Regions from separate parts of the Homo sapiens genome. Here region 1 is linked to region 2. Evidence: fine-mapped expression QTL. A gene starts in region 2. The other region holds a variant in brackets. All regions are shown on one strand. Distances are from middle to middle. Region 1 overlaps TTLL5 (tubulin tyrosine ligase like 5). Region 2 holds the start of TTLL5 (tubulin tyrosine ligase like 5).

Region 1 (4,397 bases), 61 kb before region 2:
GTAGTTTGTATAGGTTCTCAAGTCTACATTTAAACACTAATAGTGCAATGGAGGTATATATATATCTATATCTGTATCTCATCCTACATAAAATTTGGTTTGAGAGGAACAAACTTGATGGTAATACACTGCCGAAAGGCTAACCTATGACTTGCCCACAGCAGGAACTGAAGAAAAATTAAATGTATAAATAAATAGGATGGGATATTGAAGATACCTGGAAACATAGTTGAACATTACAGGTGGTAGGATGGGAAAGAAATCATAGGATACAAACACTGAGATAGTAAGGGAATGCCCCTGGCAGAGATCCATAAGATGGAAGGACAGGAACAACCACCAAAAGAATATAGCGAACCCCATGTCTGGTCTGTTGGTTTCCCCTAAAAGCACCAATGCTCTGTTTGAGCCAAAATCTTCTGGGAAGCTTTCAATTCCTGTTTACTCTAAAATAAATGGAAAAAAAAAAAAACAACTAGCTTATTCCTTGTGACTTAAACCCCAGGGGAAGTTAGGAGTCAGTGGGAGGCAGAGACTCATACAAATATACACACGTATACAAAATCATATCTGATGGGATGAGGTTAATGAAGCACACAAAATCCCAGGGCTGACAGGAAGTGGAATTAGAACCACAAAAGCCAAGAAGATAGTCAACAACTTAAAAAACTCCAGATGCACTCAGTTTATTAAAACTGAACACAAGTAGGGAGGAAGAAAGGAGACCCATGGCTGATGAAATGGACTTAAGGGGTATTTCACTGAGTCAGAGAAAGTCACAGCTTCTTCCACGTCGGAACATTCTATTGCCAATAAGTTCAATAATGAAGCTCCCAAGCTTCCAAAAGGCAATCAAGTTATAAAACAAACAAACAAACAAACAAAAGGAAACATTCAGAAAAGGTTTTATAATTATTTAGAACAAAGATTTTTACAGCAAGGGATATCAGAAATTTACCCTCATATAAGAGCCAAGTAGATGTAGAAAAATAAACCTTTATTTATTATTTAAATCTAATGAGGTTTTGGAAGTTGGAGTTACGCTCCTAGTCCCAACCCCTCATCCCCATCTTCAAACAGTCTGCAATAATTCTAAGAGTTCTAGGCCATTACCAAACCAGATCCATTGGGAAGTCTACTGTCAGGCCACCAAAAAGCAATTAAAGCAAGTGCCAATCATTCATTCAAGAAACATTTCCTGAACATTCTCTAAGAGCAAAAGACGCTGACATGCAACTGGGTATGGTGGCACACACCTATAGTCCTAGCTACTCGGGAGGCTGAGGCAGGTGGATCCTTTGGGCCCAGGAGTTCAAGGCCAGACTGGGTAACGTAGTGAGATACTGTCTCAATTTAAAAAAAAGTGCTGCCATGCATGGTGGGGGCAAAACTGACGGAGATATTCTTACTGTCCTCAAGGAGTTTCCAGTCGGCTACAGGAGACAAATATACACATGACTACCAGACAACATACAGATACTATTGTAGAGTTACAAACAGAGTGCTGGGGGTATAAGGGCAGAGCAGGCTAACTCTGGGAGCATTAGAAAAAAACATCACCAAAGAAGTGACACTTGACTTTGTCTTGAAAAATGTCTGTAATTTATTAGGTAAAGTAACACAAGAAAGGTATTTCAGACACACGGTAAAACAGGTGCAGAGGTAGCAAGCGAGGGCTTACATGGTAGCTCATGCCTGTAAGCCCAGTATTTGGGGAAGCCAAGGCAGGAGGATCACTTGGTACCATGAGTTCAAGGCTGCAGTGAGCTAAATACGATTGCGCCATTGCACTCTAGCCTAGACAACAGTGAGACCCTGTCTCTAATACAAAACTAAAAAAAAAAATTTAAAAAGGGGACAAGAGAAATGTTGAAAGCTCTGGTTTGGCAGAAATAGGGTGAAATGGGAAGAAAGGACACACTGGCTGTTATGAATTCAAGAAAATAAACTCAGACACGGCTGAGTGTATGTATAAACAAAACATCATGATGTGATAGGAAAAGAGAATGATCAAACAAGCACAGAAAAGCATAATGCATAGTGAGGTCACATTTCTACAAAAAGTTTTTTAAACAATTAGCCAGGCATGATGACACATGCCTATAGTCCCAACTACTCGAGAGGCTAAGGTGGGAGGATCACTTGGGCCCAGGAGGTGGAGGCTGCAGTGAACGGTGATCATGCCACTGTACTCCACCCTGGGCAACAGAGCAAGACCTTGTCTCAAAAAAAAAAGAACAGCATGAGGGAGGAGGCAATGTGGAGAACTAAATCTTAGAAAAGAAATGGGAGCATGCAAGGCAGAGACAGAAGGAGAGTTTTTAGGCCAAACAGCAGAACTCATACAGTGGCACAAAAGCACAGAGTGCTTAGAAGTATACTATAGTACAGCTGGATTATAAGGTATATGAGGGGAAATGGAATTCTAGAAGAGTTACCTGAGTTACCTTAGAAGCCTTTCAGGTCATATCAAGTTTCTATTATACAATTTAAGCCTAAGGAACCATTTAAGGATTTCAGAAGACATGATCAGATATGTATTTTAAAAAATATATTACAACCTCTTCTTTTCCC[A/G]TATAATTTTAGGTCCTGATTTATCTACCATCTTCTATTCAATCTCAACAATTCCCTTTGTTTACTGACCCTCAAATATAGCCTGTTAACGATAATCTGTTAAAGAGATCAGGAATTATGATGTCTAATTACAAAAATAACAAATAATTTTTATTGAGTACAACGTAAGGGCCAGACATTGTGTCAAGTGCTTTGCGTGCATCATCTCATTTGATCTTCATGGTATTCTCAGGAGGTAGACACCACCATTACTGCCATTTTATAGTTGAGGAAACAGGATTAGAGTAACTTGCTGAAAATCACAAAACTAGATATGGATATACATGGTTACAAACTAAGGCTGTTAGGCTCTAAAACCCATATTCTTTATTTCCCTGTTACTCTGCCTTCTAACCAAAGCACGACTCTCATATCCTTACTACCTGTATTACTCCACACCACACTTTAATCATCCTCCCCATCAAAGACCCTAGTGTATTTTACTAACAAAGCCTAACACTGCCAAAAGCCTATGTGACTTTAAACACATTCACATGGGCAATCACAAACCCATTCATTTCCACATAGGAAGCAATGTCCATAGGCACCCTCAGTGCTACCATTATAGCTAGGGGGTCAGTAGGTAACATTTCCTGATTCTGTAGTTGTGAACTGCTTATTCCTTCTCTGTGCAGTCAAGGAGTTGGGGGTGGAGTGGAAGGGGAGGAGAAGAGGAAGAGAAAGAGAAAGAGAAAAGAAAGTGGAAGAGGAATGGGAGAAAGAGAGGAGGGGGAGGAACACACTAGAAAGAAGACTCAAACAAAAAGGAGGAGTCATCGGAAAATGGGAGAAAGCACATACTGGTACCAGCCAGAGCTTCTTGGAACTGTTCCCAGCCTGGCTGCCAAGGAGCTCTGGAATATATTTGTTAGAGCTGGATTCCTGTACAGTCCGTTGCAGACTTTTTCTGACTGCACTCTGACAGAAAGACCAACACGTTCGTTCCAATCCCTGCTTCCCACACAGAAAGCTAGTTACTCCTCAGGGGACTTCTGACCAAGCTCACTATTGGCCTCTTAGTAGGCTCTTCATATGCTACATGAGCTTAGAAAGAAGAGTCCATCACATACCTCTTACTGCTATAGAATCACTAAGCCTCTCTACCCTAAAATCCCGTCCAACTTCCCAAGATCCTCTTCACAAAACATGTTAAGCTTCTTGAGTCTCCTTACCAAAACAACTGCTGCGATGAGGAACAAAGGTTTTACAGGCAGTAGCAATAGCTAGTTCAGCAGAGATTATAGTCTTAATGATCAGGTCTTCTACATGGGCCATCAATGCTGCAAACAAAAATTTTTAAATTTCAGACTCAATATCAAAATACATGGATTATGAACTGGATTCCAGATAACAATATAACTATAAAAGCATGTGTGCTCATTCAAAAAAGCCTCTATATGGCAGACTTCTGAATGGGTGCTATAGAGGCAGGCATATCTGTGAACAGATCAATACAGTCAAGAATGTAGGTGCCAAGGGATACCCTCAGGTGGCCTCTTATGACAAAAGACAGACACATAATGGAATAGGAGCCTCACTTCCCTTCTCACACTTCCCCTATGACCCTTTCCCTTGTGAAATGAAAAGTCTTTTTTGGCACACAGTTTCCCGTTCTGCTCAAGGCTCAGCAATTGTGTCCATTTTGATTTGAAGCCCTGTGCTCAAACAGTGCCCATTCTCCAACTCAGCAACATGAATGAGAGAGATTAACTTAGAAAACTCGAAACTTGGGGCCAATATGGAGACAGGCAATTTGTTATATAAAAAGCTGACCATATTTTAGT
Region 2 (4,397 bases):
TGAGCAAGAGTTCACCAAGAGCTACTACTTGCATTTTACAACATCTAGAGCTGATGTTCACTTATGGGCCCAGAAAGAGAGCCTTATCTCATTTCTCATAGCTGATAGGGACTGAGTAACAAGACCTTAAATGACATTATGGATAGAAGCTAAAACCAGAGTTAGATAATCCCCAAGGAATGACACTAGATAAAAGAGTACATAAGTAAAAGAGAAGAGTATATAGTAAAACAGTATATAAGAGTATATAAGTGAAAGAGTACAAAGCACAGGTTGAAAGCAGGCTTGCTATTACTTACTCTTGACTTATGACCTCCTCATCCTCTGAGGATGATGCTGTTTCCTCCAGGTCCCGGGCCATCACGATTGGCATTTCCTTTAGGGTTTGTCATGCAGTCAGCAGACGGGGGCCTCAGAGACCTTTCCTAGCAGATTCACTGGATCAAGCAATTTGGATGGCACAGATTCCTGCAAGAAATCAACTTGATTGGATCAATTGACCTGAAACACAATGCAGTTGTCTATTTATTGGTTATTGCTGATAATCTAAGTAATGAAAATGACTATATTCCTAAACAGTGCTCAACCTCTAGAAGTTTACTTTCCATAACATATGGAATGTGCCTCAATATGTGCCTCAATATGCCACAAAAATCAAGATTTTTTTCAAACATACAGTCTGTGCTCTATATATTTGAAGAGCTGTTACTAAGTTTGAGTTTCTCATTATTTACTAAATCGAATATGCACCAAAAGGATAGACTCCTCACTTTCACTCAGTTTGAGGCAGGTGACTGATTCCCTAAAACATATATTCCTTGCTAGACAAACCTGGCCTGGGTTAAAAATAAATAAATAAAAACTCAAGGTTTAAGACCCTTGCAGGCCGGGCAGGGTGGCTCACGCCTGTAATCCCAGTACTTTGGGAGGCCAAGGCGGGCGGATCACCTGAGGTCGGGAGTTCGAGACCAGCCTGACTAACATGGAGAAACCCCGTCTTTACTAAAAAAAAAAAAAAAAAATACAAAAAATTAGCCGGGTGTGCTGGCTCATGCCTGTAATCCCAGCTACTCGGGAGGCTGAGGGAGGAGAATCGCTTGAACCCGGGAGGCGGAGGTTGCGGTGAGCCAAGATCGCGCCATTGCACTCCAGCCTGGGCAACAAGAGTGAACTCCGTCTCAAAAAAAAAAAAACAACAAAAAACCCCTGCCAACATTTATTTAGACTCTATGACAAGCACGCTGACAAGATGCCATCATGTTTCCAGTAAAATAAATTCAACAATGAACCGAAAGATGAATATATTCTCTTGAATCAAAGGTCCATATAAATAGGTGGGGGAGGGGAGGAATGCCCTTCCACTCTTAAAAATTATTCTTCCTAAAAATCACAAAGTTTGGTACGACTCTCAAATAGACGATGAAATTAGGAAATTTCCAACACTGCATTTCTAACTTAAAATATTTTTTCTAAAGTAAAAAAGTACATGTTCGTTGTGTGTGTCAGAAGAAGAAATAGGAACTACAAATAAAAGAAACATGTTTAAATGACCATAATCCCAAATTACTCAGCGATAATTACTTGCTGTCAATCCTTCTTAACTTTTCCATGCATTCATAAATACGATGAGACTGTAAATAAGACAAAAAAAAAACAGACCCCGATAATGATCAAAGATCTTCGGCGCAATAGGCAATGTCTAACAACTTCAATGGCTTTCTTCAGGGGATTCTCAACGGGATTTCTTGATCTTTCCCAAAATGCTGGGAAGCCCTTTAAGTTTAAACAAACAAAACCTCCAAACGGGAAGGGATGCCAACCTCTCCTAGGCTGCCTGCAGAGCGGGGAGAAACAGGTCTATCGGAAGAAGAGTAGAGATACTCACCTAAGGAGACTCCTCTCCCGAAAGGAATCTGCTTCTCAGCCCCACCCCCAGCTCACCCCAATCCCACGTAGGTCCGCAGATGCTCCCCCCGGGAAGGACGGGACGACCCCGCAGCCGCGATTCAACGCGGCGCGCCCGGAAGCCAACAGCTACTCCCGGGCTCTGAGCGGGAAGTCCTGCTGCAGGCGCCAGCCCGGACCCGGGAATGCTCCTCCCTAGGGTAGGGAAGCGCGCGGGCGCAGGCGTTTACCTGTCTCATCTTCCCATGGTTCGGGGCGAGCAGGCGTGGACCGCGCTCTGCGCCTACCTCCCTCCTCCTTCCCCAGGAAGGCTCAGGGCAGCCGCCGACGGCTGCTTCCCCGGTTACTACAACAACCAACAAGCAACCGCCCGCTCGGAGCCACTGCGCAGGCGCTCATAACGCTCAGCTGCGGACGCGGGCGAATGTCGTCACCGCCGCGCAGCGCGGGCGCAGAGCCCTGCCCTCAGCTGAAGGGAGTCTTCTTTTTTTTTTTTTTTTCCGCTGTTTTTTTCTCCGCCCCTAAGAGGTTGACTCCAAACCCGGAGTTCCGCTAGGTCCAACAGGAGGGCTTACGGCGTGAGCGGCGTACCTGGGGAGAGGCTTAGGCAGCGGCAACCGCTGATTGGCAGTAAAGGGGTTCACTCCCCATCTCCTGCTCGGGCGAAACCGGGACAGCCAATCAGAGAGAGTACTGACGGAAACGGCCCAATCCTGGAGCAGGGCTGAGGGAGGGGGCGGGGACAAATGGCTCAGGTGGACTCCGGGCTGGAGCTGTCCTGGGGGAGCTTGTTTGCGGCAGCGGCTGCTGCTGCCACTGCTGTGCTGGGGGCCCGGTCGCCAGGTAAGGAGAATATGGGGGAGAAGAGGGATGTAGGTGTCTGTGTTGCTTCTGATTGAGAGGATCCGGAGAGTCTGGAAAAATGGAGGTGGGATGGAAGGAAGATAACTGGAAGGCAACCTTTTGGGGGGAAAAGGTTTCGAGAGGCGATGACAAGGGGGAGCTAGGAAGATGGAGAAGGCTTGGTGAATTCAAGGAACGAAGGAATGGATGAGCGAATGAGCAGCCACTATGAGCCTAGCACTGTACAAAGAGCCTTCACTTTTTGTCATATAATTCTTACAATAGCCCTTCGGGTTGATATTTCTATCTCCATTTTGCAGATGAGGAAACCGAGACTGAAAAGTGTAAATGACTTACCCAGGGTCACACAGCTACTAAGTGGTAGGGCCAGGATAAGAATCCCTTTCTCCTGATTAAGTTTTAACAGCACACCTATGCTGGGCTGGGCTTGGCTGGGCTGGGCCAGGGCCAGGACAAAATTTGGAAATAGATGTTGTATACACTCTAAGAGGCCCTTAAGCTTTAGGGAAATTAGGTTGAGAAATTGGCAGAGCAATTCAGAAGTGCTCAGGCTCTGTCCTCATCAGCTATCTGTTGGGATTTCTAACAGATAACACTTCTGTGAAATGGAAGGCATACTTGTGCAGAAAAGTGGAGAGGTGCATCCATGCAGCTTTTCTAAACCCCGGAGGAGTCTCCTCTTGAGAGAGAGTGAGAAAATAAAGAGGATGGGTGGATCTTGGCCCAAATGATAATGGCCTGTGATGTCCAGTAGACCCTCAGTCTCTCTGATCTTCGACAGAGACCACCTTTGTGATCCAGCTCTCCCTGAAGGGCTCATCAATTCACCCTTCCTTCTCTAGATCTCTTTATTGCTTGTTTGGGGCGGGGAGTTGGCGGGGGGGGGCGGCGGTGTTTCACACTGTCTTGGGCCATTGCTGACTTTAATATCTGTCCCACTGGGTAGCAGAGAACAATACCGAAACTTGTATTGCCAAAGTGACAAAGAAAGCCTGTTAGTTTATTACCACTTCAGGCCCAAGAGGTTAACCTGACAACAGATAAACCGTGGACCAAGAAAATAATAATGAGGATGGGAAAAAGTCATTCCATTATTAGATTATTTATCTATTTTGGTTTTATTTAAATCAGACTAACTGAAATTACTACTCAACAAGAGTTGAACTAAGCCTTAAAAAAAAAAAAAAAAAGGCTGGGTGCTGTAGCTCACACCTGTAATCCCAGCATTTGGGAGGCGAGGCCAAGGTGAGTGGATCAGTTGAGCCCAAGTGGAGAGGTTGAGGTAGGAGGATCACTTAAGCCTTTGATTTCAAGGCTGCAATGAGCCATGACTATGCCACTGCATTCCAGCCTGTGTGACAGAGCAAGACCCTGTCTCAAAAAAATAAATAAATAAATAATAAATTAAAAAACAAAAAGTATGTAATCTAATTGTATTTTCCATACAACTTGAAGACAAAAGTGGATATGGTATGCTTTTCTTTCTCAAAAAATGGGAACTTCATTAAAATAGTCTCAAACAATGAGGTAGCACTGCAGCAGTCCAGCAGACCATGATTCTTATCTCAGCTCTGCCAACTTTGCTGTGTGACCTTAAGAAACTTGTTTAACCTCTCTGTTCCAACCCT

What was found. PIP is the estimated chance that this variant, and not a neighbour inherited with it, causes the effect.
Region 1: its variant is the best candidate, but not a certain one, in a credible set for the expression of TTLL5 in testis (GTEx, PIP 0.68).

What each region holds. Positions count from the first base shown.
Region 1 is chr14:75,720,092-75,724,488 of GRCh38, reverse strand. It overlaps TTLL5 (tubulin tyrosine ligase like 5), which reads right to left. Exons shown (of 32, transcript NM_015072.5): 12 at 3,786-3,893. Among named protein-coding and RNA genes, the nearest start is that of TTLL5, 61 kb to the right of the region's middle. The variant A/G (reference allele first, on the strand shown) is at 2,575.
Region 2 is chr14:75,659,126-75,663,522 of GRCh38, reverse strand. It overlaps TTLL5 (tubulin tyrosine ligase like 5), which reads right to left and starts at 2,277. Exons shown (of 32, transcript NM_015072.5): 1 at 2,136-2,277; 2 at 300-468. The coding sequence starts at 373. It overlaps ERG28 (ergosterol biosynthesis 28 homolog), which reads left to right and starts at 2,647. Exons shown (of 5, transcript NM_007176.4): 1 at 2,647-2,748. RefSeq lists an enhancer at 2,206-2,425 and a silencer at 2,536-2,585.